Homo sapiens: one gene and its partner. The protein of the gene in region 2 interacts with the protein of the main gene of each other region in a pairwise test. Each region holds a gene or a part of one and is shown on either strand. Other genes may lie near its edges.

Region 1 (7,026 bases), on a different chromosome or scaffold from region 2:
ACTTCCTCTTGGCCTTCAGGCTTCACAATTCTGTGAGAAACTGGTCGCCACTAATACGAAAGCATTCAGGGAAAACACATCTGCACAACAGCATTTACGAAATTCTGCCCATTTCCTTAAGCTACACGAAGTGTTACCATCTCAGTCATCTTCATGAACAAATACAGTACTTTACTCAAAAGCTTCTCAATAGAAATGTTAATCTCATAACAGTTCTGGCTGTAGTCATGGCCAGTTTTCATTTTATTAAGCATATTCTAGAATTACAACCTTGTCAAATAAATTGTAACTGTATCAACATTCACAGGTACAGTATAACACACATCCTTTCTTCCTCTTTAACAAGACCAAACATATGCATACAGAGTGGCCCAAATTTTAAAAAGTTTAAAAAAAGTTTTCAATCCAGGAAAAGTATTGGTATACCAAATATCTTTTAAAAGGGTATTATACTCTCAGAAAGTATGAAACATTAATGGATAAAATGCACATACAATATAAATAAGAAAGTAACTTGAAGAATAATATAAAAAAATTTCTGAAGGGGACCGATCAGAACTTCAATAAAACTTATGAATAAAAACTTAGGCTTATATTATAGTGTACAATTATGAGTTAAAATGCACTTAAATTTATAAAGAAATTGAAATATAGTACTGCAAGGTTATTCAAAGAATATTTTTCAAATGTACAAACAACAATAAAAACACACAAAAAAAGCCTTGGGCAATGTGCAACTTTAAAAATTATTATCACACCAGCTAAACAAATCCTTAACCACTTTTTAAATGGATTCATTTATACCATTTCAATGCAAAGAGAATATCAAAAATATTAAAACAAAACAAAAAACTCTTCAGTGTCTGACTCACATTTTGTCCCCAAATCTTCACATTTAATAGTTACATTTTGAATGTATAAGCTAAGAGTTCTAAATGTTTCTCAAATAGTTTGTGTCTACATTTATCATAAGAATCATATTTGAAAACTACTCTGCTAAGAACTAAAACTAGTACTTCAAACGTTTAAAAATAAAATCTTCACAAAAGTTCACAATTGTGTTCATCTCAATGTCCATAAATTACTAAAAAAGAAACAAGTCACATGTTCAGATACTTTTTCTCAGGTATGAGTCTATTCTGATGTGTGCCAAGCTGCACCTTCAATATTTGGCACTGACAGTCTATCTAAACACAATTTATCAGCAGAAAACTGTAAGAAATTCTATAAACCTTTAGCCATTCAAAACCATCATGTTTCATTTTCTCTCCTAACATGCAATTCAGTTATTCCAAAGTCATTTGGGGGTTGCAAGGAGGTGATTTAGGTGACTGGTACAAAATGAAGCTTATATGAAAACTGGTTAAGGATTCAAAGCACACTAGCTCTGAAATATTAATCTTAACACCAGACATAAATGGGGAGGTATGACTTGCACAAAATACTTTCAATTACTTTGGTTACACTCTTCATGATCTTGCATGTTTAGCTGCTTGCAGTGCATGCATGCATCCTCTTTGCTACGTCATAAACATAGGTGACGTCTGGTCGCTTCTCTGGATCTGGGTTGATGCACATATTAACTAACTGTCGGAGCTGTGAAGAAAGAAAAACAATAAAACCTGATTAAGACAACTATTTTTGGTTAGTTTACTGAGAGGAAGAAATTATGAATAGCTATAGATTTTACAAGGAAAGTACATTTTCTGACTAAACATTCACTGTACTAGAAATATATATAAGACTGCTGCCAATGATCTTACAATAAGTTAAATGTTCTATGAAGTGCATTGAATGGACAGTATTAATGTCAACCAAGAAGTATTTTCCACAATCAGAGGCTTTAAAATGGACTCTCTTAATTTTTCAGAGTTTAATCAGAAGATAGCAGTCACTGAGGACACTAGTCTTATAACTATAAGTCTCCAAGTTAACTGTAAATACACACATACATATTTGATCTAGAATCTACTACAACAGACTTAATTGTAAGTTTAAATGGAAGGCAATTAGAGTTGACATACATTTATAATGAACCATTTTGTACAAATATATATTAAAAGTTTTATGTTAAATTTTGTATTAGAGAAAAAAACACTCCTTTAAACTAATTATAATAAATTATATGGGAAGTTATAAGTGTTATTCCAATCCTCAATTGTGTACACAGTATTTAAATGTCCTCACTTTATAGATGAGAGAGTTGAGGTTTACTATTTTATTCTATTTATATCATAGAATAAAAGCAGATTTCAATAAATTAAGAAACTACCCTCCTATATGGTCCTCGATCCATCGGGTAGAAGAACATAGCATTTTATTGTCAATTCTAATTTCCATCAGTTTATGAAACTATGTGTCATCATAACATTGTATATGATCTTCATAGACAATAAACTAAGAGGAAAAACTATATTCTTTTGCTTTGTAGGTCTCTTTAGGAACAGTTTAGACATTTTGAGAATTTGCATTAACTCTGGCCACGATATAGCACTTAGTAAATTTTTAAATTAGCACAATTTCTTCATAGTTCTCAATTTCTACCATAAAATAACTTTCAACCAGAGAAAATACAAGTGATGATTAAAAAGCTTGGGCTGAAGATGTTGCTAGTGCTATGGAGAAGGCTAATGGCACTGAGAAATGTCATTCTGAAAGAGGAGGTGGGTCAAAGAGTCTGCCAGATGAAGGGTCAGAGTTTGGTAAGGAGTACAGTGAAATGGAAACCAGTCTTGTTGAAGGCACTTTGTAGCTCTGTGCCCTTGGGTAAGTCACTGTCTCTGGAGGTTCATTTCTTCATCTATTAAATAGGGAAGTTGGAGTGGATGACCTATAAGGGCTGTTCTCATCCTAATCTCTTACATTTTACGATTCTAGCAGAATGAAATTTAATGAATCAATTTTAGCTACACTTGGAAATTCAACAATGTTTCATAGTAATGTTACACCCACTGGGAGAGCCTGAAGATTTTAATTTATATTCCTTCCAAAAGAGCAGAGAACAGCATTTAAAACCCTTAAGGGGTACAGCAATACACAAAGCATTTTATTATGGTGATCTAAGAGAAATTTACATCAGAAAGAGACTGGCATTTTACCAGGTTACCAAAAAAAAAAAAAAAAAAAAAAATAAATATATCCAGTAATACACAATGCAGAAGAAAGTGGGAAAAGCACTTACATAATGACACATAATTTAAAAGATAATGTGTTCTAATGGGTCATCTAGCTGTCAGATATTTTCTTTAGAGATAAAAACAAGAAAGCAAGCAGAAAGAATAGCAGGAAAAGATAACCATGGTACAAAAAGTTCATTATATTTAGCTAAAATACAAGTAGATGCATGCAGTAAACAATTTTTTGACTTCCTAACACTGCCACATCCTTCAAGCTGGTTCAGAAACCTTAACTTTTCCTGTGTAATAATTCAGAATAGGGTAGAATTTCCAACCACTAAGAATGAATGACTGGCCCTTAAGTTCTCCTGGCATGAGGAAAAACCAAGATTAGAGATATAATGATGCACGTTTAGTTGAAGCAGACAGTGATTCTCTAGTTCACCAAAGTAAAAAGACAAGAATTGGGAATAACAAAAAGGGAGAAAGACACTGAATAAGGTAAATAGGTAGTGGGAGTGCCAGTGAGCAGATGCTTCTAAACTGCTCCTTTAAGGATGGCCTTTCAAAGGGATGACAGGTCAATTGGTGACCTTGCGACAGGCAGAGCCACAGCACCTTGGAGTTTGCTTTTCCTTCCCCACTTATTGATTCAATCTCCACCAAATACGAAGTGTATCTTGTCATAAAGAGTTTCCTTTTCCAGAAGAATCAAAAGGGCTATCACCATATAAAATCAGATATGTGAAATACAGAATATGCATACTTTACTATATTTATGAATCAATCTGTTGATAACTTTTCCTCAATTATTTGTTACATTAAAAAATTAATAAAGTATAAAAAGAAAGAAAACCTACGAAATTAAAATATGCTTTGGGAATGCTCCCACTTATCCACTCCAGCAACATTTCTAGATGATCTACTCTGCAAGAGACACTATGCTGGTGATACTTGATGGCACCGGATAAGACAAAGGACCTGTCCACAAGGGAAGGCTTGTTGTCCAGCATGAGAAGTGAGAGAATGACTCATTTTCCTTTCTAACCATCTGACTCTTTTGTTCTTTCTTTTTGCCCCCTCTTCCATTTTCATCCGTTCATTCAATTGTTCATTCAATAGTTTCCAATGGAGTATTTATTATGTACCAGACACTTTGTTAGGTAGTAAGGATAAAGCAATAATGAAAAATACACAGCACAGGCCCTTAAACAGCCTACAATCTAGCGGAAGATAGACAGAACAAAGAAACAAATGTGAAAGTGAGGAAATCACAGAAATAATTCTATTATAAACTACAAAGTGATAGGTATCTCAAGAGATATCTGTGAGATAAAGGTAAAAGATTAAGTGTGGCTGCCCAGAGGAGGAAATAATTACTTTCCTCTTTTTCTAAAATCTGTTTAACTATGAGTTGTTGCACCTCGTACACGGAGGTATCGATACCCACACAGCTGACAGTATCCTTCTCCATTCCAAGTACTGCAACCCTCATCTTGGGTCACTTTCACATTTATTTGATGTGAATCAATATAAATCTCTTTGATTACCTGACTGTAATCTTCACCTTCATACCAATTTAGTCTCTGTCTTCCAAGGACACAGCCTGTTTCTTAAAATGCTGTGTCACATCAGAAATGTAAGCACACACAACTGTCCTTCTGTGTCTCTCCCTCCCTTCCTCCAGTATGGTTGTGTTTGATTTGACTGAGACCATTTCCAATCCCTTTCATCCTGGTCAGCTCTATCCTTTTGGATTTACATCATTCAATTCCGGCCTAGACCTTCTCTTCCCTGACGTTTTCTTCCTAGTTTCTTTTGGAGGTTTATCTTCCTTTGAAAAATCTACCAAATGTTGGTATGCCCTAAATATTTTCCTTTCCTTAACTCTTTTCCTGTTTCACTCTTCCTTCTTATCTTCAACAACTGCACTTACTCCCATGCCTTCAATAACCACCAACATGCTGAGGAACACAGGTTATCTGTCTCCAGCCTAGACCTCTTTGCAGGCTCTGTTCCCATACTTCCAACTGCCTTCTGAGTAGAGCTGCACGTAAATATTCACATTAAACATGTTTAAAACTGAAATATTAGTATTTTTTTCTCCCCAACCAGCTCTTCCTAACAGCACCTCCAACTTCTTAAGTCAAAAATTTGAAATTCATATCAAACATCTCATCATACTTCCTTCCCACCTGCCTAACCGTCAGCAACCAGTCCTATTGGTCTCAGGCTCCTTAAACCTTTTGTTTGCTCCTGCCACACCATCTCCACTGCCACACTCTTGGATAGTCTTCCAGCTGACGGCTTTGCTTTCAGTTGTCTTCCTATTTCTCTAGCACTGCCTAACTAGCCAGGTGATGCTTCAACTTTAAGCATTTCAATGGCTCCTCATACCTCTTAGAAAAGCTAAGGCCCACCATAGATGGGGAGGAGGAGCCAAGATGGCCGAATAGGAACAGCTCCAGTCTACAGCTCCCAGCGTAAGCGACGCAGAAGACGGGTGATTTCTGCATTTCCATCTGAGGTACCGGGTTCATCTCACTAGGGAGTGCCAGACAGTGGGCGCAGGTCAGTGGGTGCGCGCACCATGCGCGAGCCGAAGCAGGGCGAGGCATTGCCTCACTCGGGAAGCGCAAGGGGTCAGAGAGTTCCCTTACCTAGTCAAAGAAAGGGGTGACAGACGGCACCTGGAAAATCAGGTCACTCCCACCTGAATACTGCGCTTTTCCGACGGGCTTAAAAAAACGGCGCACCAGGAGACTATATCCCGCATCTGGCTCGGAGGGTCCTACGCCCATGGAGTCTCCCTGATTGCTAGCACAGCAGTCTTGAGATCAAACTGCAAGGTGGCGGCGAGGCTGGGGGAGGGGCGCCCGCCATTGCCCAGGCGTGCTTAGGTAAACAAAGCAGCCGGGAAGCACCAACTGGGTGGAGCTCACCACAGCTCAAGGAGACCTGCCTGCCTCTGTAGGCTCCACCTCTGGGGGCAGGGCACAGACAAACAAAAGGACAGCAGTAACCTCTGAAGACTTAAATGTCCCTGTCTGACAGCTTTGAAGAGAGCAGTGGTTCTCCCAGCAGGCAGCTGGAGATCTGAGAACGGGCAGACTGCCTCCTCAAGTGGGTCTCTGACCCCTGACCCCTGAGCAGCCTAACTGGGAGGCACCCCCCTGCAGGGGCATACTGACACCTCACACGGCCGGGTACTCAAACAGACTTGCAGCTGAGGGTCCTGTCTGTTAGAAGGAAAACTAACAAACAGAAACGACATCCACACCAAAAACCCACCTGTACATCACCATCATCAAAGACCAAAAGTAGATAAAACCACAAAGATGGGGAAAAAACAGAGCAGAAAAACTGGAAACTCTAAAAAGCAGAGCGCCTCTCCTCCTCCAAAGGAATGCAGTTCCTCACCAGCAACGGAACAAAGCTGGACTGACAATGACTTTGACAAGCTGAGAGAAGAAGACTTCAGACGATCAAATTACTCCGAGCTACGGGAGGACATTCAAACCAAAGGCAAAGAAGTTGAAAACTTTGAAAAAAATTTAGAAGAATGTATAACTAGAATAACCATTACAGAGAAGTGCTTAAAGGAGCTGATGGAGCTGAAAACCAAGGCTCGAGAACTACGTGAAGAATGCAGAAGCCTCAGGAGCCAATGCAATCAACTGGAAGAAAGGGTATCAGCGATGGAAGATGAAATGAATGAAATGAAGCGAGAAGGGAAGTTTAGAGAAAAAAGAATAAAAAGAAACGAGCAAAGCCTCCAAGAAATATGGGACTATGTGAAAGGACCAAATCTACGTCTGATTGGTGTACCTGAAAGTGACGGGGAGAATGGAACCAAGTTGGAAAACACTCTGCAGGATATTATCCGGGAGAACTTCCCCAATCTAGCAAG
Region 2 (7,233 bases):
CTGCAGTGGCCATTCCCGCTGCAGGGCCTCTGGGATCCGCCCTGGCATGCTTTAGGGGACACAAAACCATGCTCAGAGCACACCTGGTGGTGACCGGTGCGGTGTTCTCACACGGAGAGAACGCATGGCACCCAAACCCTGTACGATTCTGAGGACGTACATGAGCCTGAAGGCTTGGAGTGGGTGTTTGGGGAAACTGATTTCCTGGGTCTGCAGGGCTGGCGGTGGATCGCCTGAGTGGAGCAAGCCACAGGCTCCTGGGCTTCACTATGGCCACGTGCTGCATGATGACGTTTAGGTCAACAAGGGACCCTGCATAGCACAGCTGTCCCCTAAGATGATACTAAAGCTGAGCGGCTCTTATTGCCTAGTGACATCACAATGTGCCTCATTACCTGTTCTATGTTTAGATGTGTTCAGGTGACACATTCTTACCACGTGCCAAATGGCCCACAGTACTCAGGACCCTCACGAGCCGTGCAGGTGTGCGGCCTGGGAGCAGCAGGGCCTGCCAGGCAGCCTAGGTGCAGAGCGGCTGCACCATCTAGGCGTGTGGCGTGTGGCGTGTGGAGTGCACGCTGTGATGTTTGCACCATGACAAAGTCGCCTAATGACGCATTTCTCAGAACACGCCTGGTCGTTACACATGACTGCACTTTGTGTGGCTTTGGGCAGCCTCAGCTGAAACATGGTGATAGGGACACTGACGCGTCAGGCGCGGGGACTGCAGGGAGAGTGGGAACATTAGCTGCGGCCTCCAGTGCATGCCAGGGACAGCAGCAGGGGCTGGCAGAAGGCTGATGGTGGGCGGGTGGGGGGTCTGAACCTGAAACTTCTGCTACCTGATCTCGCTTGACCACGAGATTGGCTTTTATAAACAGTAAACCGTGACTTCAGTTTCAATGCACACTTCTTCACAGAAGAGCCCTGTCCCTTGGCACCCATTGGGGCTCAAGGCCATGTGCCCAGCCTGATAGACACCCAGTGCCCTGCGCTCTCTGCAATAGCAGCCACAGAAGTTGTGGTGTGGTCACCTCTGTGCACACAGGGAGAAGCACCTGGACAGGTCAGTCAGGACAGACTCTCAGGTGAGTGGACTCAGCTGTGAACAACCTGAGTCTGTGAACCCCTGAATTAACAGCACAGCTGGGAAGACATACTCAGAGTTTTACGCTAAAGCATGAGGTTAGTGGTGAGGCTGCAGCCAGACGGTGCGAAGTGCTCCAAGCTGTGTTGGGGATGGGGGAGGCAGCCATCCGGCAGGGTCCCAGACCCTACAGAAAGCTGATGCACCCCAGGTCCCCTCTGTGCTTTTACCTCCCAAGAATCATGAGAAGAAGAGGGGAAGTGACGTAGGAGATGGGATTTCCCTGAGGAGAAACGCACCGAGACAGTCGGGACCGTAGGTTCCTGGAGAGCAGCACACTTTCAGTGTCTTCACACAAAACCACTCGAATAAGTCAGGATATTCGCTCTTCCTGAGGATGGAGGAAAACATTCACTGAATCCCAGCAGACACGGTTCTTTAAAACAAACATGCAGCTGAACGTAACATATGCTCTGGAGTATTGTAAGGTCCAGGAAACAAGAGTCTAGGTGTGGACAGAATCTTCTCCTTAATTTCCTGGTTTTGATCGCTGACTCTGGTGATAAAAAACGGTAATGCAGGGGTAAGGTGGGTGCGAGGCAGGTGGGAGCTCCCTACTGTTCCTGTACCTTTCTAAGTCTGAGGTTATTTCAAATTCTAAGTTGGAAAATAAAAAGTATCTTCTAAGAGGTTTTAAGGCACTCACAGCTGCAGCCACCAGGCCTCCAGGTGCTCCTCCTGCGCCTCTAGCATCTGATTGCATTCGAAGTCGCTGCTCTCGCACAGCCCCTCCAGGATCTCCAGCAGGCGAATCTCGCTGAAACACAGGCCCACACCGGCCCACCGTCAGCGCCTCCAAGGCAGTGAAGAAAAATCCGAACCAATACGCCAACCTGGGTGCAGGGGCCGGGGAGCCAGGACTCCGGGCACAGAGAATAAGGGGACCCCACTGTCAGGGGAAGCCAGGAGCGGTTCCCACAAGTGGGGCTGGTGTTCCAGTTTACATTTTGAAAAGCCACTGTCTGTTGAGGGGGTAGGGACCAGAGCAGAAGCTGGAAGGCCAGAGAGGGGCCAGCCATTAGTCCTCAGGGAGAAGCCGAGGTGACTCGGACGGGTGACTGGTGCCTCGGGGGCTGTTCTGTCTCCCTGTCATTAACACAGGCACCAAAGGCAGGACACGACTTCCCAGGACAGCGCCAGGCCAAGACCCACAGGGGTGCTCCAGGGCACCCACCTGGACTCGTACTTGGACAGCGTCTTTTCCTCCCAAGCCGTGTTCCCGCCGCCAAAGTTCTTCTTTGCGGTGTCCACCATCCCCTGCGAGGAGACAGTGCCCATAGTGCTTGGTACCACCTGACCCGGGTCCAGGGTGGGGGCGAGCCCAGGTCGAGGGTGAGGGGACTCCAGGCCCACGGTGGCGTCGACCCTGGTTCCACGGTGGGGGTGGATCCGGGTCAAGGGTGAGGGGGACTCCAGGACCACGGTGGAGGGACTCTGGATCGACGGTGAGGGGGATCCCGAATCCAGGGTGAGGGGGACCCCGGATCCAGGGTGAGGGCGACCCTGGGCCCAAGGTGGGGCGACCCCGGATGCAGGGTGAGGGGGACCCCGGGCCCAAGGTTGACGACCCCGCCCGGCCCCTTCCCACCTGGTTAAACTTGTCCACCAGCCCCCGGCACCGGTGGCAGGGCGTCGGCTTCTTGGCGGCCTCCGGCGCGGGCGGCAGCAGCAGCAGAAGCGGCAGGAGCCCCAGCGCGGCCCGGCGCGGCAGGCGCATGGCGGGTAGCGCTGCGGGAAGACGCAGCCGGAGCTCCAGGTCCTGCGGCCGTGCTGCTCCGGCCTCCCGGCCGCCCACCCGCTCCCAGCCGCGCCGGCCTGTCCCCCAGGCTACTTGACGGCGCCGGCGAGGCCCCGCCCCACCCGCCAGCCCCGCGCCGCTATTGGTTGATGGGACCCGCCCCGGCCTGATATGGCCCAATCCGAGTTCGCCACGAGAGGTGACCAATGGGAAGGCCCCGGATCAGCGGCCGCCAGGAGTCCGGGGGCGGGGCGTGCAGGTCCGACCCCGCCTCCCGCTCCCCGCCCCTCGCGCGCAGCCCGCGGCGGCCATCTTTACTCAGGGCACAGAGGGTCTCTGCGGCCGTAGCGGCCGGGGCTGCGGTAGCCACTTTAGATTTGGGCAAGGACTTTAGATTCGGGCTCTGTTCTGTTTCCGCCGTCCTGCTTCCTGCCGAGGCTGGCCCAGGCAGCCGCGCTTCGAAGGACGCCGCCGGGAGCTGCGGAGGTCAGTGCGCGCTGCCGCGACCGGGGCCTTCAGGCGGGCGCGCGGCGAGACCAGGGAGGAGGCGGGCGAGGGCGCGACCCGAGCTGGCGCTGGCGCTGGATTCCTGAGGCCTCACCGCGCATGTCCACGCGTCACAGCCCCGTGCTCCTTACCTGGGGCTGCACCCCTCACTTGGGGCCGGGCTCCTCACCTGGGGCTGGACCTGTCACCTGGGGGCCAGACCTCTCACCCGGGGGCCGGACCTCTCATCCGGGGGCCCGACCTCTCACCTGGGGCTGGACCTCTCACCTGGGGCCGGGCTCCTCACCTGGGGCCGGACCTCCCACCTGGGGGATGGGTTTTTCACCTGGGGGCTGGGGATCTGGGGTCCACTTAGGGTCTCTGGGGGCTGGGGATCTGCATTTCTACAGGCGCTTGAGGTGATGAACACTCGCTCATGTTCAGGAACCCCTGGTTTAAATTAGGGGAAATAAAACGTGCAGCGTCTGGATTTCAGAGAACTCCTGCCTGTGGAAGGAAGGAGTGCAGATAACACTGCACATTTAAAAAAAAAAAAAGTAACATCTGATTTGACCAGTTTCTTTTCTGTTTTTTTGAGACGGAGTCTCACTTTGTCGCCCAGGCTGGAGTGCAGTGGCGCGATCTCAGCTCACTGCAAGCTCCGCCTTCCAGGTTCCTGTGATTCTGCTGCCTCAGCCTCCTAAGTTGGGATTACAGGCACCCACCACCAGGTCCGGCTAATTTTTGTATTTTTAGTAGAGACGGGGTTTCACCATGTTGGCCAGGCTGGTCTCGAAGTCCTGACCTCAAGCGATCTGCCTGCCTCAGCCTCCCAAAGTGCTAGGGTTACAGGCGTGAGCCACCATGCTTAGCCTGATTTGATCAATTTCGGTAGAGGCCTTAAAATCTGGATTGATGGGGACAAGAGGGTCTTTGCAGGTCATTCCCTAATCTGAGATGCCATTGTTCTGTAAACCACCATTTTAAAGTGTCATGGCCTGGGCCCGTTTTAACCTGTGGGTGCTCTCGAAGCACCCGTCACTTAGATTAGCCACAGCTGCTGCCCAGCTGCCCAGCAGAGTGGGCTAGTGCAGGACAGTGTCCGTTCACCCTCGCCTGGTGGGGGGTTCGTCGTGGTTTTCGTGCTTGCTGGTGTTGACTTGGTCTTCCCGTGCTCCTGGCAGAGAATCCAGACTCACCCTTGGTCTTCTCATGCCCTCGAAAGTGAGCTGTGCTGGTCATCAGCAGAAGGCACACCTTGTTGGGTCCGAGGAGGTGCTGGGGGCCCGCCAGGAGTGTCAGAGTCAGCACGTAATGTTTTCACCCCACAGCTGAACTCTTCCTTGCTGGGGAACTCCCCTGGGTGGAGAGGTGTGGAGTGGGGTTGTGGGGGACTGCCAAGCAGCACTTGCTGTGTGCACCTCCCACATCTTGGCACGTAGATGCTCCCCGTTCCGTTTTATTTTTTATTTTTGTAGAAATGGGGTCTCATGATGTAGCCCAAGTTGGTCTTGAACTCCGGGCCTCAAGCAGTACCCCCCATGTCAGCTTCCTGAGTAGCTGGGATTATTTTTGTGGAGATGGGGTCTGGCTCTGTAGCCCAGGTTGGTCTTGAACTCCTGAGTAGCTGGAATTACAGGCGTGAGCCAACACATCCGGCTTGCTTCCTATTTCTTTTTTTTTGAGACGGAGTCTGGCTCTGTTGTCCAGGCTGGAGTACAGTGGTGCGATCTTGGCTTGCTGCAACCTCTGCCTCCCGAGTTCAAGCAATTCTCCTCCTCTGCCTTCCAAGTAGTTGGGATTACAGGCGCACACCACCATGCCCAGCTAATTTTTGTATTTTTAGTAGAGATGAGGTTTCACCATGCTGGCTAGGCTGGTCTTGAATTCCTGACCTTGTGATCCACCCACCTCAGCCTCCCAAAGTGCTGGGATTACAGGCATGAGCCACCACGCCCGGCCGTTGGAACATATTTTTATTTAATTTAATTAATTTATTTATTTATTTTTGAGATGGAGTCTTGCTCTGTCGCCCAGGCAGGAGTGCAGTGGCGCGATCTCGGCTCACTGCAAGCTCCACCTCCTGGGTTCACACCATTCTCCTGCCTCAGCCTCCCAAGTAGCTGGGACTACTCGCCACCACTCCAGCTAATTTTTTTGTATTTTTAGTAGAGACGGGGTTTTACCATGTTGGCCAAGCTGGTCTCGATCTCTTGACCTTGTGATCCACCCGCCTCAGCCTCCCAAAGTGCTGGGATTACAGGAATGAGCCACCGCTCCCGGCTGCTGGAATTTTTAATAAGCACGTGAGCTGGTGTGATGAGAACCCCATGTAGGAGTTTTTACCGATTTCTTCTTCGGCAGCCTTGTTGAGTGCCTACTGTGCGGCAGGCTTTGCTGATTCAGCAGTGAGTCCACCAAGCAAGCCCTGCCCGCAGGATGAGTCCAGCAGGGGAGGTGGCAGCGAGGCAGCCTTCAGGCCACAGCGGCTGGCCTCTGTCCTTGGTGCTGAGGCTGCGCTGGTGGGAAAAATCATCCAGCATCAAAAACCCCCCACCGTCAAAAAGCTTGTGTCTTAGCAAGTGGGAGACAGCTGAGTGGGCCCTCCCTCAGTTAGTGATTCCTAACCTAGTCCTTCGACCTTTCTCTTTGTTTGATACCAAGTTTATTTTTTTAAATTTTTTTATTATCTATTTATTTATTTCTGAGACGGAGTCACGCTCTGTGGCCCAGACTGGATTTCAGTGGTGTGATCTCGGCTCACTGCGGCCTCTGCCTCCTGGGCTCAAGCGATTCTCCTGCCTTAGCCTCCCGAGTAGCTGGGATTATAGGCGTGCACTACCATGCCCAGCTAATTTTTGTATTTTTAGTAGAGACAGGGTTTCACCATGTTGGCCAGGATGGTCTTGATCTGCTGACCTCGTGATCCACCCACCTCAGCCTCCCGAAGAGCTGGGATTATGGGAATGAGCCACCGCACCTGGCCCTCAGCCTCCCAAAGAGCTGGGATTACGGGAATGAGCGACCGCGCCCGGCCCCAGGTTTTTATATTTGGCAAAGGAGAGAACTGCATACCATTTCAGTCGTAAAATTATTAAAGCTTTCTTTTTTCTTTCTCTCCACCCCCTGCCCACCATATCAAATAGGGTTCTCCTTCCTTCTAATCTACAGATTTTCCTTTGGTTGCCATCTTTGTATACTTCTTAACTCTCCGTTTGATCAAAAGATAGTTTTGGCTGGGCATGGTGGCCCACGCCTGTAATCCCAATACTTCAGGAGGCCAAGGTAGGAAGATGGCTTGAAGCCAGGAATTCCATACCAGCCTGGGCTACAAAGCAAGACCCTGTCTTTACAAAAAATAAGAAAACTTAGCTGAGTGTGGTGACCCACACCTGTAGCTGCGGCTACTCAGGAGGCTCAGGCAAAAGGATCCCAGGAGTTTGAGGCTGCAGTGAGCCATGATCACTCCACTGCACTCCAGCTTGGGTGACAGAGTAAGACGCTGTCTCTTAAAAAAAATTTTTAAAGTAGTTTTAATAAATGGTAAGCCCTGGGGTTCTCTCTCCCTTTGCTTCTGGCCCTTCTGGTTTGGATTGAATAAAATCAAATCTGTTTTAAAAGAAGCCAGAAACGTGAAGAGTTTGCCCCCTCCCCTCCCTTGGTCTCTCACGTGTAGCAGCTGGACATGTTGCTGGCCTCTCAGGAAGCTCCGTGCCACGGGCCCCTGAGGTTGTCCTGTTAGTGTTTGGGGGACCCATTGCCAGTCTTCCCAGGCTCACATGCAGGCTCATGGCCAGTGTGGTGCCACCTTTGGGAAAGCCGGCCATGGCTTCTCCCAGCCCCCAGGGTGGGGTTCGGCGCA

The links. The genes of interacting proteins can lie anywhere in the genome.
Region 1: the proteins of CRELD2 (region 2) and NEK7 interact in binary tests that used the Homo sapiens proteins (3 or more experiments, as listed by UniProt).

The regions. Positions count from the first base shown.
Region 1 is NC_000001.11:198,313,982-198,321,007, reverse strand, and holds part of NEK7 (serine/threonine-protein kinase Nek7), read right to left. Parts: intron 1,597-7,026; coding exon 1,486-1,596; 3' UTR 1-1,485. UniProt on the Homo sapiens protein: Protein kinase which plays an important role in mitotic cell cycle progression. Required for microtubule nucleation activity of the centrosome, robust mitotic spindle formation and cytokinesis.
Region 2 is NC_000022.11:49,914,401-49,921,633, reverse strand, and holds the start of CRELD2 (protein disulfide isomerase CRELD2 isoform b precursor), read right to left. Parts: upstream 3,001-7,233; 5' UTR 2,865-3,000; coding exon 2,736-2,864; intron 2,405-2,735; coding exon 2,322-2,404; intron 1,905-2,321; coding exon 1,794-1,904; intron 1,479-1,793; coding exon 1,387-1,478; intron 50-1,386; coding exon 1-49. UniProt on the Homo sapiens protein: Protein disulfide isomerase. Might play a role in the unfolded protein response. May regulate transport of alpha4-beta2 neuronal acetylcholine receptor.